Linked DNA regions of Homo sapiens. The protein of the gene in region 1 purifies or fractionates together with the protein of each later gene. This does not show direct contact. Each region holds a gene or a part of one and is shown in the gene's direction. Other genes may lie near its edges. The genes, in order: MILR1, NCR3LG1, CMSS1, PPP1R12A, PDCD10, DNAJC2 and MCTS1.

Region 1 (4,237 bases):
CCACTGTGCCGGGCCAAGAACTTGTGTTCTTAATTAAACACAAGTTTAAGGCCTGTGAACAGTGTTCATTTCGCACTGGGCGCTGCAAGTGGTGCGGCTGCTCCTGACTGCAAGTGCCTCAAGCGAGAGCTTTGCCTTGAGTGACTCTAGATCTGCCACATACGTAGGGGAGGTTCAGTGCATGAGGACAAACAAGCGTCATCCCATTAGCACAAAAGACACCTTCAAAAGGTTTACAATTGTTTGGGGCTGGAAGTATTGAAAATATTAGGTTGGTGCATAAGTAATTGCAATTTTTGCCATACTTTTATGGCAAAACCCACAATTACTTTTTTTTTTTTTTTGAAATGGAGTCTCGCTCTGTTGCCCAGGCTGGAGTGCAGTGGTGCAATCTCGGCTCACAGCAGCCTCTGTCTCCCTGGTTCAAGCGATTCTCCTGCCTCAGCCTCCTGAGTAGCTGGGATTACAGGCACCCACCACCATGTATTTTTAGTAAAGACAGGGTTTCACCATGTTGGTCAGGTTGGTCTTGAACTCCTGACCTCAGGTGATCTGCTCGCCTCAGCCTCCCAAAGTGCTGGGATTACAGATGTGAGCCATTACGCCCGGCCCACAGTTACTTTTGCACCAACCTAATATATACATATTTTTTATTTCTACATTTCTATGCTTTCTAGATTTTCAATGTAGAAGTATAATCTATTCTACTATAAGATTTTTTAAAAAACTTTATTAAACACACCAGACTCAAAAAAACAAAAACAGAAACAAAAAAGCATCATTTCTCTCTTCCCCACCTTAAGTGCTACATCCAGCAGAAAACTTGTCAATGTTATTAGAAGCCTCAGTTACAGCTTTTTTAAAAAAATGTTTTTTAGAGACGGGGTCTCACTGTGTTGCCTAGGCTGGTCTTGAACTCCTGGACTCAGGCGATCCTCCCACCTCAGCCTCCCAAAGTGCTGGGATTACAGGCATGAGCCACTGCACTCAGCCCAGTTACTGCTTTTCATTCCTCACGTCTTATGGCCACCACTGGTTAAGCCTTCAAAGTGGTTTTTTCATTTGGTACACGAGTGCAGAAGGATATGAAGATTTACACAAAAGACAGTTTGGGTCTCAGCACTGGCCCCCATCAGCAAGCTGAGGGCTGTTGGACAAGCCCCTCAGGCTGTTGCTTCTGAGCCTCAGTGTTCTGAGTTGTGGAATGGGCCATGGAGATATTGTCAGAACTGGCAAGAGAACCAATTGAGAACCATCTCCAGAGAGTCACAACTCAGAGAAGTCAGGGACTCAGTTGACATAAAACTTGAACACAGAGGTCACAAGTTATACATCTGATGCATCTTTAAGATTTTATTTTATTTCATTTCTTTTTTTTAGAGATGGGGCTTCACTGTGTTGCCCAGGCTGGAGTGCAGTGGTGCCACCATAGCTCACTGTAACCTCCCACCTTAGCCTCCCTAGTAGCTGGGAATACAGGTATGCACCACAACTCCTGGCTAATTTTTTTTTTTTTTTTTTTTTTTTGAGGCAGAGTCTCGCTCTGTTGCCCAGGCTGGAGTGCAGTGGCACAATCTCCGCTCACTGCAACCTCTGCCTCCCAGGTTCAAGCGTTTCTCCTGCCTCAGCATCCTGAGTAGCTGGGATTACAGGCGCCCACCACCACGCTAGGCTAATTTTTGTATTTTTAGTAGAGATGGGGTTTCACTATGTTGGCCAGGCTGGTCTTGAACTTCTGACCTCGTGATCCGCCCACCGCGGCCTCCCAAAGTGCTGGGGCTGGTGAGCCACCGCGCCTGACATTTTTTTTTTTTTTTTTTTTTTTGAGACAGGATCTCACTTCCATCACCCAAGGCTGGAGTGCGGTGGTGCAATCATGGCTCACTGCAGCCTTGACCTCCCAGGCCTCCTCCTGCCTCAGCTACCTGAGTAGTTGGGACCACAGGCGCGCACCACCATGCCTGGCTAATTTTTTTTTTTTTTGTAGGTTTCACCATGTTTCCCAGGCTAGTCTTGAACTCCTGGACTCAAACCATCCTCCTGCCTCAGCCTCCCAAAGTGCTGGGATTACAGTTTTTTGTTTTTTTTTTAATTACAAAATTCTTTTTAGAGACAAGGTCTCACTATGTTCCCCAGGGTGGTCTTGAATTCCTGGCTTCAAGTGATCCTCCCACCTCAGCTTCCCAAAGCACTGGGATTACAGGCGTGAGCCACTGCACCCTGGCCCACATCTCATATGTCTTAAAAACATGTTTCTCCTTCTTATAAAAAGTCCAGGTTCTTGCAAAAGTGGCATTAATATTTTTGATTACTGGCTGGAGCTACAATAGAATTCAGTGAGGCTGGCCGGGCACAGTGGCTCATGCCTGTAGTCCCAGCACTTTGATCACCTGAAGTCTGGAGTTTGAGACCAGCCTGGCTAACATGGTGAAGCCCCGCCTCTACTAAAAATACAAAAAATTAGCCAGGCATTGTGGCACATGCCTGTAATCCCAGCTATTCAGGAGGCTGAGGCAGGAGAATCGCTTGAAACCAGGATGCGGAGGTTGCGGTGAGCGGAGATTGCACCATGGCACTCCAGCCTGGGCAACAGAGCAAGACTCCGTCTCAAAAAAATACAAAAATTAGCTGGGCATGGTGGTGCACAACTGTAATCCCAGCTACTCGGGAGGCTGAGGCAGGAAAATCGCTTGAAACCAGGATGCGGAGGTTGCGGTGAGCCGAGATCACGATAGTGCCACTGCACTCCAGCCCAGGCGACAGAGCGAGACTCCATCTTAAAAAAAAAGAATTCAATAGGCCATTTACACTCTCTTGAAGATATTACAAAGCTTCCACAGACTATTCTCTTCAGCGAAGGAAAGAAAATAAGTCTGGCTAGTTCAGGCATAATCTGATAGGCAAAGCATGTTCCTCTGAAGGCCAGGAAAATAAATCAGAACAGCCCCTGGCTTGGAGGAGCGGTGTCTAGACTCCCTGTTGAGTCTATAGTTTTCCTTTGTTAGACAACAGTTTGGGCCATTGGAGCAAGTCACTCTCTGTTTCAGAACTTTGAGGGAATTCTGCTCCTTGGCCGAGGAGATGAGAAAAATGTGGCTGAATTGGTTTAATTTGATGATTCCTACCTATTTACGTAGGAAAAGCTATGAGAAATAATGTGCCCAGGGACCGTGGAGACACAGCCATGGAAGTTGGAATCTATGCAAATATCCTTGAAAAACAAGCAAGTAAGAGAACTTTGTTGCGTGTTTTGGGTGGTTTCAGGTTTTTGTCTTTTTATTTTGTTAAGGTTGTACAGACATACGGGAGTGGGGGGTGGAGCAAAAGGGATAGAGTTCAATGTCTATTGATGCCCAGTCCCACTTTCTAGGGGTAATAACCAGTTTTTTAAATCCTTCCACAGATATTCTGTGTGTATAATAAACAAATGGTAGTGATTGTAGCATATTGTAGGTATGACTTTCTACACCATGATTTTGTTTTTTTTTCATGTAACAACGTATCTTGGAGATTTTTCACATCTGTTCAGAATGATCCACACTGTGTTTCACAGTCTTTCACGGTCACCTCTCAAAGCAGGCATTGCATATTGCTTTGCAGTAAACAAGACCCAGCGCCTCGGCTGATGTATTAGTCCATTCTCATGCTACTATAAGGACATACCTGAGATGGGGTAGTTTATAAAGGAAAGAGGTTTAATTGACCCACAGTTCCGCAGGGCTTGGGAGGCCTCGGGAGACTTACAATCATGGTGGAAGGGGAAGCAAACACATCCTTCTTCCCAAGGCGGTAGGAGAGAGAAGAATGAGAGCCAAGGGAAGGGGGAAACCCCTTATAAAACCATCAGATCTTGTGAGAACTAACTCACTGTCACTAGAAGAGTATGACAGAAACCACCCCCATGATTTAATTATCTCCACCTGGTCCCTCCCATGAGATGTGGGGATTATGGGGACTACAATTCAAGATGTGATTTGGGTGAGGACACAGTCAAACCCTATCATCAGCTGACAATGGAACAGTCCCAGCCTACATGGCCACATTCCAGACGCATTGCTGAGCAATTTACCGACCTTTTCTAACACAAACGCCACCAACCCCCAATTTATGTCATTCTCATTTTACAGAGGAGGAATCTGTGCCAGAAGTGGGATCCAGGCCGTGTGTTTCCACAGCCCAAGATGGTGAGCATGTTCTGCAGAGTCTATTCCACTGCCCTCATGCGCTTAGAAATTCA
Region 2 (4,237 bases), on another chromosome or scaffold:
TTTTTTTGAGACAGAGTCTCGCTGTGTTGCCCAGGCTGGAGTGCAGTGGTACAATCTCAGCTCATTGCAACCTCTGCCTCCTGGGTTCAAGCAATTCTCCTACCTCAGCCTCCCGAGTAGCTGGGATTACGGGCATGCGCCACCACGCCTGGCTAATTTTTGTATTTTTAGTAGAGACGGGTCACCAAGTTGGCCAGGCTGGTCTCAAACACCTGACCTCAAATGATCCACCAGCTTCGGCCTCCCAAAGTGCTGGGATTACAGATGTGAGCCACCACACCTGGCCAATGGTATTATATTTTTAATTTCAAATTCCAGTTGCTCAATTGTTCATTCCTGTCAAATAATTGATTTTTGCTTATTAACTTTGTATCCTGCAACTTGCTTTAATCACTTATTCATTCTAGGGATTTTTTTGTTTTTGTTTTTGTTTTTGTTTTTGGCCAAGTCTTGAGATTTTTCTACATAAATCAGGCTGTCTGTTAAAAATACAGTTTTATTTCTTCCATTATTTTATTTTATTTTTTACAGAGGTGAGGTCTCACTATGTTGCCCAGGCTGGTTTTGAACTCCTGAGCTCAAGTGATCCCCCTGCCTTGGCCTCCCAAAGTGCTGGGATTACATTGTGTGAGCCACTGTACCAGGCCTCATATTTCTTCCATTCTAACTTTATACCTTTTATTTCCTTTTCTTGTCCTGTTATGCTAGCTTAGACTTCCATTACAATGTTGCACAGGAGTGGTTAGAAGGGACATCTTGTCCATTTCTGATTTTACTTTCTAACCATGAAATATGATATTAGCTATTTTTTGGTAGATATTCTTTAGCAAGTTGAGGAAGTTTCCCTTTTATTCCTAGTTTGCTAAGAGTTTTTCATATGAATCAGTCTTGGGTTTTGTCAAATACTTTTTCTGCATTATTGGTATGATCATATAATTTTTTCTTTAGCCTGTTGATATGATGACTTACATTAACCAATTTTTGAATGATAAGCCAGCCTTGCATATGTGTAATATGCCTCTCTTGGTTATGGTATGTAATTTTTTCTGTATTGTTGGATTATATTTGCTAATATTTTCTTGAGGATTTTGTATCTACTTTAATGAGTGATATTGATCTGTAGTTATCTTTTCTGGTAATGTCTTTATGCGGTTTTGGCAGTAGGATAATATTGGGCTTGTAGAATAAGTTAGAATGTGTTCCCTCTGTCTACTTCTACTTTCTGGAAGAAATTGTAAAAAACTGGCATTATTTATTCCTTAAATGTTTAGTAGGATTAACCAGTGAAACCATCCGAACCTGGTGCTTTCCTTTTTGGAAGGTGATTTTTTTCTTCTTCTTTTTTTTTTTTTTTACTAGTTATTGACTCAGTGTCTCCTTCCTTCCTTCCTTCCTTTCTTTCTTTCTTTCTTTCTTTCTTTCTTTCTTTCTTTCTTTCTTTCTTTCTTTCTTTCTTTCTTTCTTTCTTTCCTTCCTTCCTTCTTTCCTTCTTTCTCTCTCTTTCTTTCTTTCTTTCTTTCTTCCTTTCTTCCTTTCTTCATTTCTTCATTTCCTTCCTTTCTTTCTCCCCTCCCCTCCCCTCCGCTCCCCTCCCCTCCCCTCCCTTCCCTTCCCTTCCCTTCCCTTCTCTTCCCTTTCTTCCTGCAACGTCTTGCTTTGCTGTCCAGGCTGGAGTGCAGTGGTGCGATCATGGCTCCCTGCAGCCTTGACCTCCTGGGCACTAGCGATACTCCCACCTCGGCCTCTGGAATAGCTGGGACCACAGGCATGCACCACCATGCCCTGCTAATTTAATTTTTTTTTTTTTTTTAAGAGATGGAGTCTATGTTGCCCAGACTCGTCTTGAACTCCCTCGGCTCAAGTGATCCTCCCACCTTGGTCTCCCAAAGTGCTGGGATTACAGGCATGAGCCACCATGCCTGGCCCACTAAAGCACTTCTTTTTATGTTTCTCGCACAGCAGGTCTATTGGTGAAAGGTTTGTCTGAGAAAGTCTTTATTTATACTTCACCTTTGAAGGAAAATTTTTCTGGATATAAGATTCCATGTTGGTGTTTTTCTCTTTTTTAAGTTTCAATGCTTTAAATATTTCACTTCACTCTCTCCTTGCTTGCATTGTTTCTGACAAGAAGTCCAGTGTTGTTCTTGTTCTTCTATATGTAAGGTGTGTTTTTTTTCCTGTGACTTTTTTCTGTCTTTCTTTTCCCTCCCTCCCTCCCTCCCTCCCTCCCTCCCTCCCTCCCTCCCTTCCTTCCTTCCTTCCTTCCTTCCTCTTTCTCTCTTTTCTTTTCTTTTCTTTCTTTCTTCTTTTGAGATGGGGTCCCACTCTGTTTCCCAGGTTGGAGTGCAGTGGTATGATCACGGCTCATTGCAGCTTCACCCTAGTGGGCTCAAGCCCAAGTGATCCTCCCACCTCCGCCTTCCAAGTAGCTGGGGCCACACGCGGGTGCCACTAAGCATGGCTAATTTTTGTATTTTTTGTAGAGATGGTGTTTCATTATGTTGCCCAGGCTGGCCTCGAACTCCTGAGCTCAAGTGATCCACCTGCCTTGGTCTCTGAAAGTGCTGGGATTATAGGAGTGAGCTACCATGCTTGGCCATCTTTGTCTTTCTAAAGTTGAAATATGATATGGCTAGACGTGGATAGGCATATTTGGATATTTATCATGCCTGGTATTCTCTAAGCTTCCTGGGTCTTTAGTTTGGTGTCTATCATTAATTTTGGAAAATTCTCAGCCATTATTTATTCAAATTATTTCTTCTGCTCCTTTCTCTTTTCTTCTTCTTGTATTCCCATTATATATCTGTTACACCTTTTGCAGTATCCCACAGTTCTTGGCTATTCTGGGGTTTTTTTTAAATTCTTTTTTCTCCTTGTATTTCAGTTTGGGAAGTTTCTTTTTTAAAAATTGTTTGTGATAGGGTCTTGCTCTGTATCCCAGGCTGGAGTGCAATGGCGGGATCTTGGCTCAATGCAACCTCTGCTTCCCAGGTTCAAGCAATTCTTGTGCCTCAGTCTCCTGAGTAGCTGGGACTACAGGTGTGCACAACCATGCTGGCTAATTTTTGTTTTTTAAGTAGAGACGGGGTTTTGCCATGTTGGACAGGGTGGTCGCCAACTCCTGACCTCAAGCAATCTGCCCACCTTGGCCTCCCAAAGTGCTTGGATTATAGGTGTGAGCCACCACACCGTGCCCAGTTTGGGAAGTTTCTATTAACATCTTCAAGCTCACTGATTCTTTCCTTGTCAGTTTCTTTTTTTTTTTGAGACGGAGTTTTGCTCTTGTTGCCCAGTCTGGAGTGCAGTGGCGTGATCTCAGGTCACTGCAACCTCCGCCTCCTGGGTTCAAGTGATTATCCTGCCTCAGCCTCCCAAGTAGCTGGGATTACAGGCATGCGCCACCACCCCTGGCTAATTTTGTATTTTTAGTAGAAATGGGGTTTCTCCATATTGGTCAGGCTGGTCTCGAACTCCTGACCTCAGGTGATCCACCCACCTCGGCCTCCCAAAGTGCTGGGATTATAGGTATGAGCCATTGCGTTCAGCCTCCTTGTCAGTTTCAAGTCTACTGTTGAACCCACTGAAGGCATTCTTCATTTCTTTAATGGTGTTTTGAGCTCTAGCATTCACTTTTGGTTCGTTCTTAGCATTTCCATCACTCTGCTTATATTATCCATCTGTTTGTGCATGTTATCTGCTCTTTCTGTTAGTGCTCTTAACATTTTAATTATAGTTTTTTAAAATTCCCTATATGATAATTCTAAAATCTGTGTCATACCTGAGTCTGGGTCTGATGTTTGCTTTGTTTTTATGTATTTTTTAGCCTTGTAATTTTTTAGTTGAAAGAGAGATATTATGTATCAGGTAATAGGCTTTTATTATGCGGCCTTATGTTAATTTGGCTAGGAGCTGGGTTGTGTTTAATGCTTATTGTAGCTATAGGTGCCAGAGACTTCAGTTTCTCTAGTGTTTTTTTCTCTCCTTTCCTATTGTCTTTGGGTTTCCTTATGAACTCCTTAAATAGGTTCTGTGCCTTGTAGCTCTCTCACTTATAATCTTCTGTTATTATACTGGAGCCCTGTTGATGTGGTAGTAAAGTGTTGGAGGAGAATCTGTTTATACTTTTATGATTAAATCTTATTCTTTTAGTGGCCTGAGCCTCTGGACTGTGGCCTTCAGAAGTGTTTCTTAGCCTTTTCTCTTTCTCTCTTCTTAAGTAATACAGAAAGGCTATAGA
Region 3 (2,922 bases), on another chromosome or scaffold:
AATATTAAATTTGACTAATCTACTAAGTTTCTAATTCTAATAATGAGAAATGTCCAAAAACATCTTGTCACCCATAGTTATTTTTATTCTGTTGCTGTCATTCTCAGCAGTTATCCTAAGGCAATAAAATCCTATACTGAACTATTGTATATAATCTTGTTTACAGAAAGCACACTGTGGAGTCCTTGAAACACCTTTGTATAGCATTTTATTTTGAATGGCTGCAAACAAAAGGGCACTTTAATGAAACTAATGTTTTATATAGTACCTCCTCCTTCATTTATATAAATATTTTAATTCTGCCAGGCATGGCAGTGCACACCTGTAATCCTAGTGCTTTGGGAGGCCAAGGTGGGAGGATTACTTGAAGCCAGGAGTTCGAGACCCGCCTGGACAACAAAGCAAGACCCTGTCTCTACAAAACAATAATAATAATAGGCCAGGCACAGTGACTCACACCAGTAATCCCAGCACTTTGAGAGGCCAAGGCAGGTGGATCACTTGAGGCCAAGAGTTCAAGACCAGACTGGCCAACATGGCAAAACCCTGTCTCTACTAAAAATACAAAAATTAGCCAGGTATCATGGCACACACCTCTAATCCTAGCTACTCAGAAGGCTGAAGCATGAGAATCACTTGAACCTGGGAAGCAGAGATAGCAGTTAGCCGAGATCACGCCACTGCACTCCAGCATGGGCAACAGAATGGGACTCTGTCTCAAAATAATAATAATAATAATTTTAAAAATTTCAACTCTGAATCAAATGTGTGTTAGGACTTTTGCACTCTCTGATTCTGGCCATAACAGCTGGGTAAATATCAGGGAGTCCTGATGGTTGAATGTATTCACCAAGACCATTTTGGCTTGATCTTAATCTTTTTTTCCCCCCTTTTCTCTCATTTAGATAAGAAAGGAGGTATTCGAACTTCTGGAAATGGGAGTGCTCAGTCTGTGCAAGTCAGAATCCTTGAAACTGGGCCTTTTCTAAGTCTGTGTCCTAATGAAGATTCCAGTTTTCACAGTAGAAGTTGCATCTTATTTAATGACTCTGATACATTGCAAGCACTCAGTAAATATCAGCAAATAGTTTATGTTAATTGTGTCAACAGATGGATCACTGGAATGTGGGGATTCTGAAACAGAAATGAAACTGTCCTTTTGACAACTCTCTTATATAATAAAGTATCACCGGCTTGTGTATGATCCTTGTTGAGCGGACCGTGTTTTTCTGTCACCAACTGGCTTCTGATGTAACTGTGCAGGAGAAAGGAAAGAGCAGCTGGGTGACCTTAGGCAAGCGTAAGGTCTTGCCTCTCTGAGCCCCATCTTATCAACTCAAAGTGGGAATGTCTCACAGCATTGTTGAGGATTCCAGGAGATAGTACATGGGGAGCAGATTTGTAAACTCTGAGGCATGGTCCCAGCAAAAAGGGTGGCAGGTATATTAATCCATTCTCACATTGCTATAAAGAACTACCCGAGACTGGGTAGATTATAAAGAAAAGAGGTTTAATTGACTCACAGTTTCACAGGCTGTACAGGAGGCATGGCTGAGAGGCCTCAGGAAACTTGGCAGAAGGTGAAGGGGAAGCAAGCACATCTTCACATGGCGACAAGAGAGCAAGAGAGTGAAGGGAGAAATGCCACACACTTTTAAACGACTAGATCTTGTGAGAACTCACTCCCTATCATGAGAACAGCAGAACAGCAAGGGGAAAATCTGTCCCTATGATCCAGTCACCTTCCACCAGGTCCCTCCCCCAACATTGGGAATTATAATTCAACATAAGATTCGGGTGGAGACACAGAGCCAAACCATGTCAATTCCACCCCGGCCTCTTCCAAATTTCATGTTCTTCTCACATTTCAAAACACAATCATGCCTTCTCAACAGTCCCCCAAAGTCTTAACTCATTCCAGCATTAACTGAAAAGTCCAACTCCAAAGTCTGATCTGAGACAAGGCAACTTCCTTCCACCTATGAGCCTGTAAAATAAAAAACAAGTTAGTCATTTCCAAGATACAATGGAGGTACAGGCATTGGGTAAATGCTCCCATTCCAAGTGGGAGAAACTGGCCCAAAGGAGCTAAAGGCCTCATGCCAGTTTGAAACCCAGCAGGGCACTCTTTGAATCTTAAAGCTCCAAAATAATCTTTGACTCCATGTCTCACATCCAGGCCACTCTGATGCAAGGAGTGGGCTCCCAAGGCCTTAGGCAGCTCTGCCCCTGTGGCTCTGCAGGGTACAGTCCCCATGGTTGCTTTCACAGGCTGGTGTTGAGTGCCTACAGCATATCCAGGTACACAGTGTAAGCTGTCAGTGGATCTACCATTCTGGGGTCTGGAGGATGATGGCTCTCTTCTCACAGCTCCACTAGGCAGTGCCCCAGTGGGGACTCTGTGTAGGGTCTCCAACCCCACATTTCCCCTCTGCACTGCCCTAGTAGAGGCTCTCCATGAGGGCTTCACCCCTGTAGCAGACTTCTGCCTGGACATCCAGGCGTTTCCATACATCCTCTGAAATTGAGGCAGAGGCTCCCAAACCTCAGCTCTTGCCTTCTGCACACCCATAAGCCCAACAGCACGTGGAAGCTGCCAAGGCTTGGGGCTTGCACCCTCTGAAGCAATGGTTCAGCTGTACCTTGGCCCCTTTTAGTCACAGCTGGAGCTGGGGCAGCTGGGAATTAGGCTGCCATGTCCTAAGGCTGCACAGAGCAGCTGGGCCCAGGGCCTAGCCCACGAAACCATTTTTTTCCTCCTAGGCCTCTGGGCCTGTTTGGTGGGGCTGGGGAGGGCTGCCACGAAGGTCTCTGAAGTGCCCTGGAGGCATTTTATCCATTGTTTTGGCTATTAACATTTGGCTCCTCTTGTGCAAACTTCTGCAGTGAGCTTGAATTTCTCCCCAGAAAATGGCTTTTCTT
Region 4 (4,237 bases), on another chromosome or scaffold:
CAACATGGATGAAACCCCATCTCCACTAAAAATAAAAAAATTAGTCGGGCGTGGTGGTATGTGCAGGTAGTCCCAGCTACTCAGGAGGCTGAGGTGAGAGAATCACTTGAACCCGGGAGGCAGAGGTTACAGTGAGCTGAGATCGCGCCACTGCACTCCAGCCTGGGCGACAGAGCGAGACTTTGTCTCAAAAAAAAACAAAACAAACAAAAAAAAGATTTAGAAAGGAATTTGATACCTGTCTTCCAATATTTGAAAATACTGTAGGTAGAGAATAATTTAAAACCCCTTTTAGTAGGTCATTAAGTAAGATGCTTAGATTATCACTTTTGGGGGATGTTTTCAGGGCTGGAGAAGAGGACCTTCCTCAGTTAAAAACAGACAAAAAATTTACTCCTTATCCATTCTGCTTAATTGGGCTAAATGAAATCCTTCTATTTTTTTCAATAGAGCTAAAATTTTTAATCTTCAGTTCTCTAAATCCTTTTTAAAAATGTGGTTCCATCTTAAAATTAAATTACATTATTTTAAAAAATGTAGTTAGGAAGTTAAAATGTGATGTTAAAATATAATTATTAAAATATAACTAGTTCCAATCTAAAAAGAAATTATAAGATTGCATTATTGAATTTCAAAGACCATTTTCTGAAGACTTTTCCTTAAAACTTACTAAGATATTAAACCTGTATGTTTTATTCATATGCATTGATAGATATTTACATTCACAGGTATTGTATTTACAACTAACGATTTTTCAATTTACTACTGTAGATCATACCTCACTCCTGTTAGGGATGAAGAGTCTGAATCCCAAAGAAAAGCAAGATCTAGACAAGCAAGACAATCTAGAAGATCAACACAGGTATAGTTAATGTAATTAATATATAAAACTTACATAAGTAGCATATAAAATATATATACACACACTGACATAAAACAAGTTACCTTTCTCTTTTTCACTTTGTTGTGAAAATATTGATGTCAGTATATAGTGTGAGTAAATCCTTAAAAGGTAAAGGTTGCTGTAGTTATTCTAGTAATTCTAGTGTGAATAAATCCTTAAAAGGTAAAGGTTGCTCATAGCCTTTTGTATGGTTACACTGCTACTATTGTATTTCATCTAATTAGCATATGCCTTTGTGTCTTTTTGAGTATTTTTTAAATCCTTATTCCTAATACAGTGTCTGGCCCAGAGTATTTGGTTAGAATAAATTAATCATATGATGTCTAATAAGTATTTAAAAGTTCTATGAATATTTGGAAATCGGGGGCAGAGAATAGGCTCGTATATTAGGTATAAACAACTAATATGCAAGTATGAAGAAAATGTCATTCAGGCTGGCGATCTCCTTACCTCCGTTTTGCCATTCTGATTATGCTGTATATGATGTATACTTTTGTGTCTTTCTGCTTTCCCACAGTTAAGAAGCTCCACAGTCCAGATTCAGCTGTCTATCCTTACCATTACTTAGCTTTCAAGCTGAACTATTTGCTAGGGCCTTAATATACTTTTTCTGTCTTTATACTTTTCACTTCTTGAAATCTAACCTGTTCTTCAAGGTCAAATCTTGAAAAATTTATCGAAATCTCTTTTAAGCCTTAACAATCATCATGCATGTGTATATAGATACATATACACACATATATATACACACACACAGACATATATATAAACATAAATATTTATAATATACAAACAGTACAGATACTGGCTATTCTTCTCTAGTTTGAACTTGTGGGGAACATTTATATGCATAGAGTATCCAGTACCTATCGTTGTGCTTGCTAATGGTGATTCTTCATAGAATGAATGTAACTTGCTGTTTCCATTTGCAAACCAATTTTAAACATGCATATTTGACTTTTAATGCATTTGTATGTAATATATCTATTTCTAAAATATTCCTTGAAACAAGCTTTAATGCATCTCATAATTATATTGATCTTTTTGTGTGTGCAGGGAGTGACATTAACTGATCTTCAAGAAGCTGAGAAAACAATAGGAAGAAGTCGTTCTACCCGAACCAGAGAACAAGAAAATGAAGAAAAAGAAAAAGAGGAAAAAGAGAAACAAGATAAAGAGAAACAAGAAGAAAAGAAGGAGTCAGAAACATCTAGAGAAGATGAATATAAACAAAAGTACTCCAGAACGTATGATGAGGTAACAGTATATCAAAAGCACATTTAAGTCAAATGGTATGAATAGTCCTTATGATCCTTAACATACAAGAGATTTATATACCAACAAACCATATGCAAAATACTGTAAAGGATTTTAGCTGGAAATTTGAATTACTTTGGCGTGATTAGTATACTACTTTTTCTTTGAAATGAATTTTTAAGTATTTTTATGTTTTTAATTGTGTTTAATGTTTCAAATGGGTTTTGATCTTAATGTTTCACAGACTTACCAGCGTTATAGGCCAGTATCAACTTCAAGTTCAACCACTCCATCCTCTTCACTTTCTACTATGAGCAGTTCACTGTATGCTTCAAGTCAACTAAACAGGCCAAATAGTCTTGTAGGCATAACTTCTGCTTACTCCAGAGGAATAACAAAAGAAAATGAAAGAGGTAAGAATACCAAATTTTGAAAACACTTTGCTTTCTTCATATAATCCTTTGGATTAGGGTTTCCTAAATAATAATTCAACAGTAAAGGAACAGCATCCTAACTTGTGATTCATCGAACCTAAACAGAAAGAATATGAAGGTTGAGAATGAGAAAAGTAGAAAACAGAAATAGAATATGGCCTGCTGTTGATACTAATATTTTTATAACCTAATACTTCACAAAAATCTTCATGTCCACCTACAACGAAAAGTTAATATCGAACTGGTGGGTGACTATTTCTAGAAGCAGTTTACTAGTGTAGTACTTCTCAGATGCTTTAAGCTATTTCTTGCCTACTGTGTAGATCATATCATTTAAATGTTTTTTTGTGAAATTGTTGTAAACTAAAATTACTAACTACATGTAATGCTCTCACTAAAACACATTTTTATGCTTATTTCTTAAAAAATACATTTCTTTCTCAACTATATATTGGCATATTGATACTCATTACCATTTCCTATTATTTTATATAAACTTTCTATTTAAATTCTGAGTAATTCCTACTTTAAATCAGATATAAGTACTAAATATAGGCATTTCATATTTTAAAGCCTAAATCTTACAGTATTAGTCATGATAATATCAGTAGTAATGTAGAATAAACAGCAGAAAATAAAGTTTTTTCCCAATTTCCAGCTATATATTTTCTCATGTTGATCATTGAGATGTTTCAGTTCTTTAAACTTCTATGTGTGAGGCCTGCATTGTGTTTGTAAAAATGTTGAACCAACATTTAAAATTAGAGATACTCACTTCAAACTTCAGATTTTTGCCATTTCTTGAAAAGTTGGCTGACCTGGCAACACTGGATCTGAATTCTCACATACCAACAATTGGCTGGAGCTAAGTAGTAGCAGCTGCCTACCTTCCATCCCCCTAGATAGTCCCCTGGCCCATTTTACCCATTGTTTTTACAATTACCTTGCAAAATATTGTCAAGATATATTGCTATATTGTGGTTCATTGCAATCCTTAACAGAGGGAGAAAAAAGAGAAGAGGAGAAAGAAGGAGAAGATAAATCACAACCTAAATCAATCAGAGAACGACGACGACCAAGAGAGAAAAGAAGATCTACAGGAGTTTCATTTTGGACACAAGATGTGAGAACCTATTAAAATACATTATTTGATAGTATTCTTGATAGTATTCTTAATGTGTCCAAAAATACATACTAATAATTTCTTATATGCCTTAGATTTCATATTCCTTAAATCATCACTGTGTTTTCTGAGTTGTTAAATAAGAAAAATTATTTTTAAGGATAGTTAACTACTTAGATTGTTGGTACTACTTAAAAGGAGTGGTTCTGACCTAATTATGGAATAGAAATAATAATGTCTGAAGCTCAGAGTGCATGTATTGATTATTTTATAATAGGTAAACTGCTTCTTGTAAAAACATCTTTTAAGAATTTCTAAGGAGTCTATTTAATTTCATTTTCATAAATATCATTATAAGATCTACATTACAGATTACTTCCATCTCAAAGCATGCTAAATAGACACAGTGCTTTGCTTATCAAATTACAACAGTCTTGTAAAAATTAGTGTTTTCCTGGTCCTTGATTGTAGGCCTGACATTGCTATTCATTGATTTTGTTTCCATTTTCTAAAAAATAA
Region 5 (4,237 bases), on another chromosome or scaffold:
TATTACCTTCTTACTCTGTTTAACACTAAAAATTTATCTCTTCTCCTATCCAGCTCTCCGTCCTTATCTCCAGCCTTTCTCATTTACCATGCCTTTCAGTTACTACATACATAAGCTGCTTCCTGACTTGGTGGCCTTTACATATTCCGTCTCACTCCTTGGACTGTTCCCCTCACGCCTACCTAAATGTGGCCACCTGGTAGTCAGTTTTCACGTCTCAATTTAAATATCGTTCGTCAGGGGAGCCTTGCCCGCCTTCCCAAAATCAGAATAGGTTTCCGCCATGTATTCACCATACTCTGTACTCCTTTGTGGCATCATCATAATAGAAACTTAATTATTTCTGTATTTATTTGACAAATACTGTCTCCTCACTGGACTATAAGCTCCCTGAGCAGGGCCCTCTCATTTGTCATGTTTTACCCCACTACTTACGCAGTACCTGGCACATTGTAAGGGTTCAGTAAATATTTGCTGAATGAATGAAGGAGTGTATTCATGCACAGTGCTTCCAGCACTTCTCTGGGGACAGAAATAGAGAAATGAATAAAGCGGATATGCTTTCTGGATTGAAGTATATAAGAACTTTCAAATGAGCCATAATGCTTAGGCAATTTAGGTTATATGTAAAGGAGTCATTGACAGAATTTTAATATAAATTGTGGAAAAATGTTTGTTCTTTTTGGAGGTCTCTGAAATCAGGATTAATTTTCTAAGTGGAAATGATAAAGGAATCACTTTCATTTGCCGCAGAATTGCTGTGTAACACAGCATTTTAGAGACTTATCACTGTCCTGCTTTTTGCAAGCGATATTCATTATAACAAAATATAGACATGGAAGAAACTTCTAATGGACTCTTCTTCCCTAATGTTGTCTCGTTTTGCCCTAAAAACCTTTATTTCCTCTAGGTAGTAGTATTAATACTGTTTTATAGCTGAAGACATCAAGAAAATAAGTAAATTTACTTATTAAACTAAAAAAAGTTTAATTAAATTGCTAGAGTTTCCAGAACGTTGGTACTGGAACCATGGTTAGAATCTGGATCTATCTCCGTATTCTAGAATCCATAATTTTTTCTTTTTCTTTGCTTTTTTGTTTTGTTTCTTGCTTTTTAACCTTGCTATCTTCCTATGAATTATACCTTTAATATCACTTGATTTAGACAAGGTGGCTTTGTAAAATTGAGTAGTTTTTGTTTCAAAGGAACTTATATTTTGGGTTTCCTGAAAATTTTTCTAATACTTTTCTAATCTTATTTGCTTTATAGCTGGAGACTTAAGCATAAAAAGATTATTTTTAAAACATACAAACTGAATTTTAGGGATAAATTGTGTTAGGTTTTGGTCTTGGAAACAAGTTCTGCAGTCATTTGTAGTACCACGGTATGGCATAGAGTAAGGTCAACAGCCCTGAGTTTCTGTAGCCTTGTATGCCTTCATGGATTTACCAGTTTACTCTTCCACAAGATCTTGTCAAAAAGAGATTGCTGATAATTTGGCTTTAAAATTTGGTAATACTATCCATTTTATTATTAAAAACAAGTCTTTGCTAAATCCTAAACTTACTTTTTAAAAAGTCAGTGTTGATGTTACTTGAATCTTGGATAAAATTTTCATATTTACCTAGCATAACCAGTATGTGGAGGATAAAACTGAAATACTGCTTTTTATATGTTGTTGGATAATTAATATCATTATGATAGGTGTTACTAAGAATTTTAAGCCACTTACATGATAAGTAATTTTTTCCATAATATAAACTGTAAAAGTGATTTAGAAGTTAAATGTCATTGTTATCTATGTTATTGCATTTGAAATATTATAGTAAGCTGCAGTGTTAGAGGGTTATGCTTTAGGGACACACACACACACACAATGCAAAAAATGAAAGCACATTTATTATAGCAATTAGAAATAATTTATGTGCTGAAAGATAAACACTGTGGTTTGATGGTTCATTTTTGTCTGTATGAAGATGGTAATTTCAATTTTGTCATTTAAGCTACAAAATTTAAATGTGTCTTAAGTGTATTATATTACACTTATTTTTCAAGCTCACCCTTACATTTTTGGTTATGTATAACCATTTTTAAAATCACCCAAAAGTGATTTTCTGCTGTTCAGTTTCATTCTTATACAGTTGATAGAATCCAGGTTGCCTATAGGGTTAAAAGAAAAAGAAAAGAATTTTATTAACAAGCTTATGAACTATTGGGTAACAGCAGTGGAACATGTTAAGTGGTAGTCACTAACATATACTTAGGCTGGTCCCTTGGGAATAAGTTTACCAGAGGTTAGTCTAAATAATGACTTTTTGATTCATTTACTTATTGAATGCATATTACTTGTGAAATTGCCTTAAACCTTCTTTGGAATGAACTGGAACCTAATATAATAGCTAGCATTTATTGAGTATTAAGTAACTAAGTGCCAAGTCTCATGCTAATAAGCATTTTACAGGATCTCTTATAATCCTTACGACAACCCTTCGAGGTAGAGGCACTATTATCTCCAGTTTTTAAATGAGGAAACTAAAGTACAGAGAGGTTAAGGAACTTGCCTACGGTTGCAGGAAAAATTGCTTGGAATTAGGATTTGAATCCAGGCTGGCTGACTCAAGAGACCATGTTTTTCATCATTATAGTAAAAATGATGTTAGTGATTGAACTGCATTGGAGAGAGAAATTAGCATTAAGAGTTGTAGTTACAGAGCAGTTATGTCTTAAATGCTAAGGTCAGTGTGGCAGGCAGAAATTACTTAATATTCAAACTTTTTAAAAAACCTATTAGGAAATACACGTTGTAGACTAACAACTTCAACACAGCCAGTTTTTTTCTAGCATTGGAGTAGATTTCTTTTGAGTACCAGGTGAAGTGTTTGACTTGTTATGCAGAGACCATATTGAAAAAAGAAATATGTATATTATAATACAAGAGTCACAATCAGTGTGGCAAGCTACTCTTTGTGAGAGCTCACTGTGGCTCTCAGTCTGGTGTGGGGAGTGGCAGATCCACGTTTCTTATCTGTCTCATTCTGGGACTTTTGCATAGGGAATGGAATTATCACATACTGCAGTAGTTATTTTTAGTGAAGTTATTTTTTTGTTTGTTTTCTTCAAACAAATGTTCACCATGTCTGTTGAACTTGCATAGGGTAGGAGTATCATGTGAAGCAGGTACGCTCCCTGGAGTGTTAATGCCAAGTGGCAGTGTGACATGTCACTGTATTTCTTTACTGTCTCTCTTCCCTGCCAAGACTACATACCTTCAAGGGTATGTGCTGTTTGACTTTTCATCACCATATCTCCAACTAACACTGTTGCTGACTTAGACTGACTATGCAGAATACTGTGTTGGATACTAGGAAATAGAGAAATGGATACAACTTCTCTTTAGGGAGTTTATACTTCAGTAGATACAAGGGGAAAGGGTTGAAAGACCATTGTATGGACATTTAGTCTTTCTAATATACTAAGTACTTCCATGTGCATCAGTTCATTTTACAATTTTAGGTTAGAGCTGATAGAAAAATAAATGATTGTTTCTCTAACTGCCATCTGGTCCCTGGCACTGAAATGGGTCTCCCTGTCTTATTCAGTCATTCTCTCTTACTTCAAGATAGACTGGAATTCAACTGAGATTGAAGTTATGGAATGACAAAACCCTAAGATGTTACACACCGGCTGCCTCCTCAGACTTATATAAGGTTACTACAACAGAAGCCAGTTGGGAATGTTAAATGAGTCAGACCTGGCCTCTAGACAGCAACTGCACCCTATACGAGTTTAGATTGTTGCTAGGCTTTTTTTCATTTAATTCCAAAGCATTTGGAATCCTTTTTTTTTTTTTATTGAGAACTGCACATCTTTCTCTATGTCTTTATCCATATTAAAATCGGTATTTATGCAGTACTGTCAAAATTTGAGAGATTTCCAAGGTTCTACCTTATTTTTGGTATGCTCCCTTAAAAAATAAATCACACTTTTGCGAAGTGAAGGTTACAGGAGGAACAGTAGATGCAGTAAAAACAGATACTATCCTAGCCCTAATTTCTTCTTGTAAGAAATAGTATTTGTATTTGAGATCAATTGGGAGCTAAAGGTAAAGTTAAATGTCATCATCAAGATAGAACCTTGGCCTCATTAGCACCTAATGTTAAATAAGGCAGAGGCTATTTATTGTCTGGGGCTAATAGTTTCTGTCAACATTTGAGTGCCCTGTGGCAGTGTTTTTGGT
Region 6 (4,237 bases), on another chromosome or scaffold:
TATTTCAGATGGTCAAATAAAAAAAATGTTCCTAAACTTGGTGATATGAATTCATCATTTGAAGATGTAGATATATTTTATTCTTTCTGGTAAGTGAATATACTGTTTGTATGATGCTGTCATTTTTTAAAAGGAAAAGTATTCAATAAGTACTTGATTGTTTATAAATTAATTCAGATGGACAAATTGCAGAACCTTCACTGAACAAAAGCACTCTGTTACCTATGTGATATTTACACTTTTAAGATTTTCTATTAATGAGATTTCTAGATATCAAGCACATGATAGTAGTAAAAAATGAAAATTGGGGAGTCATTTGAATAAAAATAAGTACATTTTTATTTAGTTACTTCCTACTAAAAGTACTTGAGTTCATGAGGAAGGAGACAGTGCTATTTGTCTCTGTAACTAATTCACTAATTTTTAATATGCGCAATAGTTAGTGGCCATTTTATATGTGCTACATTTTCTCATCAAATGTCTAGTAAATACAAAAACATAAAATCACATAGAACAAAAATAACAAGATTTAGTTCTATCAGTTGTAATTGCTTTTACCTTCAGAGGATACAAACTGGAGATGAGATAACCACTACTAGGGTTACCTTCAGACTTGACAGACTAGCGAAATTGAAGGCAAGGAAAACTTAAAAATAGGTCTTGGTCAAGCGAAAAACCTAACAAAGAAGAGATAGCAGGGCGGTGTGGTTTTGATTATGGAGTGATATGTGCATTTTAGATTTTCATACCAAATGCAATGTCCTTAAAAAAGGAGAAAGACTTGACCTTAGTTCAATACTAGAAGGGAAGGAAAGGTATCCATTAAAACAAATTCATTCACTTGCATTAAAAAGAATTTTTTTTCATTTATTCTGTCTTGATCATGTATTATTTCTGTCTATATTAGGTATAATTTTGATTCTTGGAGAGAATTTTCTTATTTAGATGAAGAAGAAAAAGAAAAAGCAGAATGGTATGTATGCAAATCATTAATAATGGAAGGTATTTATTTGGTTCTCTGGTATTTGTGATGATGTAAAAATTGTCACGTAAATTTTCTTTCATATTTTCTCTTTGTACATCTTTTTTAAACAATTTTTTAATATTTTGAAATCCTTTCTCACAAGTTAAACTAGGTGGGCCCAGATCAATAATTGGTTAGGATATGCTTAAGAAATTGCCAAGGAATATAATGTCAGATAGCTCAGTTCAGCAAAATCTTTTTCTTCTGGTTGCTTAACCTAGGTTTTATTAATTTTTTTTTTGTATGTGTGCAGAAATGCTTTTGACATGAATGTGCAAAAAATAACCAAAATTAATATTAAATAGAACCACTGTTTAGGCCGGGCGTGCTGGCTCATTCCTGTAATCCTAGCACTTTGGGAGGCTGAGGCGGGCAGATCACCTGAGGTCAGGAGTGCGAGACCAGCCTGGCCAACATGGCGAAACCCTGTCTCTACTAAAAATAGAAAAAGTAGCCAGGCATGGTGACAGGCACCTGTAATTCCAGCTACTCCGGAGGCTGAGGCAGGAGACTCACTTGAACCTGGGAGGCAGAGGTTGCAATGAGCCAAAATCACGCCATTGCACTCCAGCCTGGGCGACAAGAGCAAAAGTCTGTCTCAAAAAAAAAAAAATCATTGTTTAATGTTAGTAATGACACAGCATTTTAACCTCTAGGATGTTATGTACATATAAATATTTTATAAAATATTGCATTTTCCAGTCATAGCATCTATAAGCAGTAGTTTGTTTCCAATATTTTCTATTTTATAGTCGTGATGAGAGGAGATGGATTGAAAAGCAGAACAGAGCAACAAGAGCACAAAGAAAAAAAGAAGAAATGAACAGAATAAGAACATTAGTTGGTAAGTAGAATTGATTTAAGTCCCCTAAATGTTAGAAATTCAAAATGAGATTAACTTTTTCTTTTGCTAGACAATGCATACAGCTGTGATCCAAGGATAAAAAAGTTCAAGGAAGAAGAAAAAGCCAAGAAAGAAGCAGAAAAGAAAGCAAAAGCAGAAGCTAAACGGAAGGAGCAAGAAGCTAAAGAAAAAGTAAGACAACATTTAATGAAGGTGGACTTTAAATGTTTATGAAATCTTTAATCTTCACTTTAATCTTCACATCTTTTTTTAAAAAAAACTATAATTCGAAAGCAGAGAATTGGGTGCTACTGTGAATGAATCATGACCAGTTGGTATAATTGAGAGATCTTCCTTACCAGCACGTTTTTATTGAGCAAAAAATTGTGTCATAAGTTCCTTTAATATTATGCTTATTTCTAATATGTCAATTTTACATTTTCTAATAAATGTTTATAGATCTTTACCAGCTGTCTTTCCGAGTTCATCCTTCAGTTTTCAATAAGTTTATGTTGCCTTTTTTCCTAATATAATTTATTAAAAGTTTAAATTTTTAAAATTATAAAACATTTAGGAATTTTACTGTACCTATTAAAATGATTTTACTCCCTTTTTTTAAAGCAAAGACAAGCTGAATTAGAAGCTGCTCGGTTAGCTAAGGAGAAAGAAGAGGAGGAAGTCAGACAGCAAGCATTGCTGGCAAAGAAGGAAAAAGATATCCAGAAAAAAGCCATTAAGAAGGAAAGGCAAAAACTTCGAAACTCATGCAAGGTATATCAGACTGAACAAACACTAGGCACAAGTAAATCAAGTTGCTTATTAAGCAAAAATACTTCTTTTTGTTTGTTTGTTTTTTAGATGGGGTCTCGCTCTGTCGCCCAGGCTGGAGTGCAGTGGCGCGATCTCAGTTCACCGCAATTTCCGCCTCCGGGTTCGAGCGATTCTCCTGCCTCAGCCTCCCGAGTAGCTGGGATTACAGGCGTGTGCCACCACGCCTGGCTAATTTTTTGTATTTTTAGTAGAGACAGGGTTTCGCCATGTTGGCAAAGCTGGTCTTGTACTCCTGACCTCAAGTGATCTCCCCGCCTTGGCCTCCCAAAGTGCTGGGACTACAGGCATGAGCCACTGCACCCAGCCAAAATATTTCTTGAAAAAAAAAAATTATTTTTATTTATTTATTTATTTGAGATGGAGTCTCGCACTGTCACCTGGTCTGGAGTGCAATGGCACGATTTTGGCTCACTGCAACCCCCGCCTCCTGGGTTCAAGCAACTCTCCTGCCTCAGCCTCCTGAGTAGATGGGATTACAGGTGCCTGCCACCACGCCTGGCTAATTTTTTGTATTTTTAGTTGAGACAGAGTTTCACTGTGTTGGCCAGGCTGGTCTTGAACTCCTGACCTCATGATCCACCCATCTCAGCCTTCCAAAGTGTTGGGATTACAGGCATGAGCCACCTGTGCCCAGCCAAAAAAACTTTTTCTAATTAAGTTTTTGTTATTGTTGTTGTTGAGGCAGGGTCTCAGTCACTCAGGCTGGAGTGCAGTGGCGCCATCTCGGCTCACTGCAACCTTCACCTCCCAAGTTCAAGCCATTCTCATGCCTTGGCCACCCAAGTAGCTGGGATTACAGGTGCATACCACCACACCCAGCTAATTTTTGTATTTTTAGTAGAGACGGGGTTTCACCATGTTGGCCAGGCTGGTCTCAAACTCCTGGCCTCAAGTGATCCCCCTGCCTTGGACTCCCAAAGTGCTAGGATTATAGGCATGAGCCACTGCACCTGGCCAAGCATAAATGTATTTCTTTTCTTTACTATGCAAATGTAACTAAACAAGACAGAGTCTCCATCTCAAAAAAAAAAAAAAAAAAAAGACATGCTGAGATAACTGAAGATATGAATATAGACACAGTTTCAGAATATATATATATATATATATATGTGTATATATATATATTTTGTGACAGAGTCTTGCTCTGTCGCCCAGGCTGGAGTACAGTGGCGCAATCTCCGCTCACTGCAAGCTCCGCCTCCTGGGTTCACGCCATGCTCCTGCCTCAGCCTCCCGAGTAGCTGGGACCACGCCCGGCTAATTTTTTGGATTTTTAGTAGAGACGGGGTTTCACTGTGTTAGCCAGGATGGTCTCGATCTCCTGACCTCACGATCCGCCTGCCTCGGCCTCCCAAAGTGCTGGGACAGTTTTAGAATATTAACTTGTTTTTTGGTTTGATAATGGTAAGATGATTATGTTTAGAAAAAAACTATCAGGGTTGAAAACTGAAATATGTACACCTGAAATTTAGAAAAAGTTAAAAACAGCCGGGCGCGGTGGCTCACACCTGTAACCAGCACTTTGGGAGGCTGAGGCG
Region 7 (4,237 bases), on another chromosome or scaffold:
GAGGCTCACGCCTGTAATCCCAGCACTTTGGGAGGCCAAGGCGGGTGGATCACCTGAGATCAGGAGTTCGAGACCAGCCTGGCCAACATGGTGAAACCCCGTCTCTACTAAACATACAAAAGTTAGCCGGGCGTGGTCACAGGTGCCTGTAATCCCAGCTACTCGGGAGGCTGAGGCAGGAGAATCACTTCAACCCGCGAGGCGGAGGTTGCAGTGAGCAGAGATCACGCCATTGCACTCTAGCCTGGGGAACAAGAGCGAGACTTAGTCTCAAAAAAAAAAAAAAAAAAAAAAAGACAAATATTTATTGAACTTACTATGTGCTAGGCATTCAGCTAGGTGCTGAGAATACAATGGGAAGCAAAGACATTGTCTCTGTCCTTAAGAAACTAATAGTCTAGTTTGGAGAATAAACAACAATTAGATAATTACGCAAATATGTATTTACAAACTGTGATAAGCATTGTGAGCATTTTCATCTTTTATATTTGTATCTATTTGCCTAATAGAGAAAAGTCTATATATGGGAAAGCATTGACTAAGTGTCCTTCCGTCCAGGTATTTCCTGTGATGTGTGTAAATGCATTTTTTTTTAAAATTGGGCTCTCTGTTACATAGTTTTTAAAAATTGATACGTCATAGCTGTACATTGTCTGCTGTTGTGGTGCCTGTATCCCCCACCACCTATATATATTTATAATAGTTGTACATATTTTAGGGGTACATGTGATATTTGATACCTTTATACAGCGTGTAATGATCAAATCAGGGTAATTAGGGTATCTGTCACCTCAAACGTTTATCTTTGTGTTGAGAAGATTACAATTCTTCTAGCTATTTTGAAATATAGAGTAAATCATTGTTAAATATAATTTCCTTATTGTACTCTCGAATACTAGAACTTATCGACCTGTATTTTTATACCCCTTAACCAACTTCTCCTCATCCCCTTGTAGTTTTTTTTTAAATTAACAGGCTTTTATTTTTTAGAGCAGTTTTAGGTTTCCAGAAAAAGTAAGCAGAAAGAATAGAGTTCCCTCTCCCCAGTTCAGATTCCCCTATGAATAACATCTTGTTTTGGAATGATACATTTGTAACAATTGAACCAGCATTGATACATTATTATTAACGCAAGTCCTTAGTTTACATTAGGGTTTACTCTTTGTATTCTACAGTTTTATGGTTTTTCCCAAATACATGTCAAGTATCTACTGTTAAAGTATCATACAGAATGGTTTTACTGGCCTAACATCCTTTGTGCTCCACCTATTCATCCTTCCTCCCCCCACTTCCCCAACCCCAGGTAACCACTGATCTTTTTAATCGTTTTTTTACTCTGCGTTTTTCACTTAACATTATATCACAAAAATTTCCCAGGGCATATTAAGTAGTCTCCAAAAACCATAGTTTTGAAATTACGGTTTTTGGAGAATACTTGGGATGCTGAGGCGGGAAGATTGCATGAGTCCAAGAGTTCAAGGTTATTGTGAGGTATTGATTGCTCCACTGTACTCCAGCCTGGGTGGCAGAGCAAGACCCTGTCTCAAAAAAACAAACAAAAAAGATTACCAATTTGGTAAACAAATGATAGTGTTTCAGAGTTTTCTTTTGTATCTGTCAGATTAATTTGGGGAAATACTGTTCAGATCCTTTGCCTTTTTCTGTTGAGTCATTAGTCTTATTATTAATATATTGTATATCTTTTCTTACAGATCCTTTTATCCTGCCACACCAGCAGGTTGATAAAGGAGCCATCAAATTTGTACTCAGTGGAGCAAATATCATGTGTCCAGGCTTAACTTCTCCTGGAGCTAAGCTTTACCCTGCTGCAGTAGATACCATTGTTGTATCCTTCCCAGGCTAAAACTGCTGAAAAATGTATTCATTGTGCTCTTATCATTACTGCGAAAGGTGTACCATCCAAGAGAACATTAGATGTACTTTTTTGAAGGTTACTGTTACTCTTATCTCATGCCTTTCTGGTTACATTTGAAGTTGTACAAAGTAATTTTATTTGTTGCTACTAAATTATCTCATCTTAGGTCGTTTCTTAGAAGTTAAATGAGAACAAGTTACAGAAGAGTCTCAGCTGCATTTCAGCCCAGTCAGGGCCTACTGTTATCAGACTTAGGACACAATAGGGAATTCTTGATTACTAGGGGAAAGGATATAGATGATATAATTGGATCAGCTTTTTGGATATCAACTTGCCACTGTAATGTTCATTTTGACTTACTGACATACGTTGGAGTGAAAGCTCTCAAAAGGGAAAAGAATTTAGGCACCAGGTATAGGTATCTCTTACCAAGCAACAATTTTGTGTTAGGAGTGAATAGTGGGAAATATTGGCAACCTCCAACTTTTATTTTGAAAATTAATTATTTGAAAAGTTGAGTTTGGGGGCCTCAGAGCACGTTTTCTCAAAGAGAAATGTCAGAGTCCCAGATGGTCCTTAAAGATCGATTCAACTCATGACATAGCTGAATAATTCTGCATTATTTCCATTTCTACCATGCTGTTTCAGCTATTTTCTGGATTAAATAGATTTTTGTGACTATTCTGGACAGGAGAACATCTTCTCCTTTATCATAGCTAAAGTAGCCATTTGCCTCGGGTATAGAAAAGGAATGGTACTTGGTGGGAATAGGGAAACTACTTTTAGAGTGTGTTTATCTTATTTTAGTTTTTGAGATGGAGTCTCGCTCTGTCGTCCAAGCTGGAGTGCAGTGGCACGATCTTGTCTCACTGCAACATCTGCCTCCTGGGTTCAAGCAATTCTCCTGCCTCAGCCCCTCGAGTAGCTGAGGTTACAGGCACCCACTACCACGCCCGGCTCATTTTTGTATTTTTAGTAGAGACAGGGTTTCACCATGTTGGTCAGGCTAGTCTCAAACTCCTGACCTCAGGTGATCCACCCGCTTTGGCCTCCCAAAGTGCTGGGATTACAGGTGTGAGCCACCACACCTGGCCAGGGGTGTGTTTAAGAAGAATAAGAAAAAAAAATGATATTCTCTGTTGGGGCAGTTATAGCGAAGAGGTAGTATAAGTAGTATGTTTATATTCTAGGAACAGCTTATGTTGACATGCTTTTTGCCTAATAGGTGCTCACATATTTGGAACACTGAGTGAATTGAAAATCAAGGGAGAAAAGTGAGGACGGGTTTTTTGTTGTTGTTGTTTGTTTTTAATATTTATTAAGTGTTGGTAAATTTATAGTTCTGGAGTTAACCTTAAATGGAAAATTTCCTTAGTACCTAGTCTTTACTTTTAAAAATAATTTTTATTTTGAAACAGTTACAGATTTAGAGAAAGTTGTTAAAGAAAATGGTACAGAGAGGTCTTGTGTACCCTGAATCTTGACTTTTTAAAATATGTACTGCAGTGTTTAACATTCCAGAAACTTCATATGTTAACCAAGACCACTCTGGTTTTTCTAGAAAGGTTGAAACTGTTATATCAGGCTCTTAAAGATAGACTGGGAATTTACCTATTATTTTAAAACAGCCTTTACATAAAACCACCATTCAGGCCGGGTGTGGTGGCTCATGCCTGTAATCCCAGCACTTTAGGAGGCTGAGGCGGGCAGATCACCTGAGGTCAGGAGTTCGAGACAAGCCTGGCCAACATGACGAAACCCTGTCTGTACTAAAAATACAAAAATTAGCTGGGTGGGGTGGCATGCGCCTGTAATCCCATCTACTAGGGAGGTTGAGGCAGGAGAATTGCTTGAACTCAGGAGGCAGAAGTTGCAGTGAGCTGAGATCATGCCACTGCACTCCAGCCGGGTGACAAAGCAAGACTCCATCTCAAAAAAACAAACGGCCGGCTATGGTGGCTCACGCCTATAATGCCACCACTTTGGGAGGCTGAGGCAGGCGGATCATGAGGTCAGGAGTTCAAGACCAGCCTGGCCAACATGGTGAAATCCCATCTCTACTAAAAATACAAAAATTAGCTGGGTGTGGTGGCACACGCCTGTAGCACCAGCTACTCGGGAGGCTGAGGCAGGAGAATTGCTTGAACCCGGGAGGCAGAGGTTGCAATGAGCCAAGACTGCGCCATTGCACTCCAGCCTGGGCAACAGAGTGAGACTCTGTCTCAAGAACAAACAAAAATCCCCACTAGTCAGTGATCAGAATAATTAATCAGAACAATTAATATTTATTGATTTCACAGTTTTTAGTATTTATGTGCAAGAAATTTTACTCCTTTTTTGTGTGACTTATTCTGGTTTTGT

The links.
Region 2: the proteins of MILR1 (region 1) and NCR3LG1 purify together in Homo sapiens (co-immunoprecipitation; one large-scale study listed by IntAct). This does not show direct contact.
Region 3: the proteins of MILR1 (region 1) and CMSS1 purify together in Homo sapiens (affinity purification with mass spectrometry; one large-scale study listed by BioGRID and IntAct). This does not show direct contact.
Region 4: the proteins of MILR1 (region 1) and PPP1R12A purify together in Homo sapiens (affinity purification with mass spectrometry; one large-scale study listed by BioGRID and IntAct). This does not show direct contact.
Region 5: the proteins of MILR1 (region 1) and PDCD10 purify together in Homo sapiens (affinity purification with mass spectrometry; one large-scale study listed by BioGRID and IntAct). This does not show direct contact.
Region 6: the proteins of MILR1 (region 1) and DNAJC2 purify together in Homo sapiens (affinity purification with mass spectrometry; one large-scale study listed by BioGRID and IntAct). This does not show direct contact.
Region 7: the proteins of MILR1 (region 1) and MCTS1 purify together in Homo sapiens (affinity purification with mass spectrometry; one large-scale study listed by BioGRID and IntAct). This does not show direct contact.

What each region holds. Positions count from the first base shown.
Region 1 is NC_000017.11:64,462,315-64,466,551, forward strand, and holds part of MILR1 (allergin-1 isoform Allergin-1L precursor), read left to right. Parts: intron 1-3,137; coding exon 3,138-3,227; intron 3,228-4,127; coding exon 4,128-4,184; intron 4,185-4,237. UniProt on the Homo sapiens protein: Immunoglobulin-like receptor which plays an inhibitory role in degranulation of mast cells. Negatively regulates IgE-mediated mast cell activation and suppresses the type I immediate hypersensitivity reaction.
Region 2 is NC_000011.10:17,361,299-17,365,535, forward strand, and holds part of NCR3LG1 (natural cytotoxicity triggering receptor 3 ligand 1 precursor), read left to right. Parts: intron 1-4,237. UniProt on the Homo sapiens protein: Triggers NCR3-dependent natural killer cell activation.
Region 3 is NC_000003.12:100,177,400-100,180,321, forward strand, and holds part of CMSS1 (protein CMSS1), read left to right. Parts: intron 1-905; coding exon 906-989; 3' UTR 990-2,922.
Region 4 is NC_000012.12:79,795,119-79,799,355, reverse strand, and holds part of PPP1R12A (protein phosphatase 1 regulatory subunit 12A), read left to right. Parts: intron 1-771; coding exon 772-862; intron 863-1,960; coding exon 1,961-2,161; intron 2,162-2,405; coding exon 2,406-2,574; intron 2,575-3,596; coding exon 3,597-3,718; intron 3,719-4,237. UniProt on the Homo sapiens protein: Key regulator of protein phosphatase 1C (PPP1C). Mediates binding to myosin. As part of the PPP1C complex, involved in dephosphorylation of PLK1. Capable of inhibiting HIF1AN-dependent suppression of HIF1A activity.
Region 5 is NC_000003.12:167,727,850-167,732,086, reverse strand, and holds part of PDCD10 (programmed cell death protein 10), read left to right. Parts: intron 1-4,237. UniProt on the Homo sapiens protein: Promotes cell proliferation. Modulates apoptotic pathways. Increases mitogen-activated protein kinase activity and STK26 activity. Important for cell migration, and for normal structure and assembly of the Golgi complex.
Region 6 is NC_000007.14:103,320,334-103,324,570, reverse strand, and holds part of DNAJC2 (dnaJ homolog subfamily C member 2), read left to right. Parts: intron 1-8; coding exon 9-89; intron 90-907; coding exon 908-973; intron 974-1,776; coding exon 1,777-1,868; intron 1,869-1,938; coding exon 1,939-2,060; intron 2,061-2,489; coding exon 2,490-2,639; intron 2,640-4,237. UniProt on the Homo sapiens protein: Acts both as a chaperone in the cytosol and as a chromatin regulator in the nucleus.
Region 7 is NC_000023.11:120,606,513-120,610,749, forward strand, and holds part of MCTS1 (malignant T-cell-amplified sequence 1), read left to right. Parts: intron 1-1,712; coding exon 1,713-1,846; intron 1,847-4,237. UniProt on the Homo sapiens protein: Translation regulator forming a complex with DENR to promote translation reinitiation.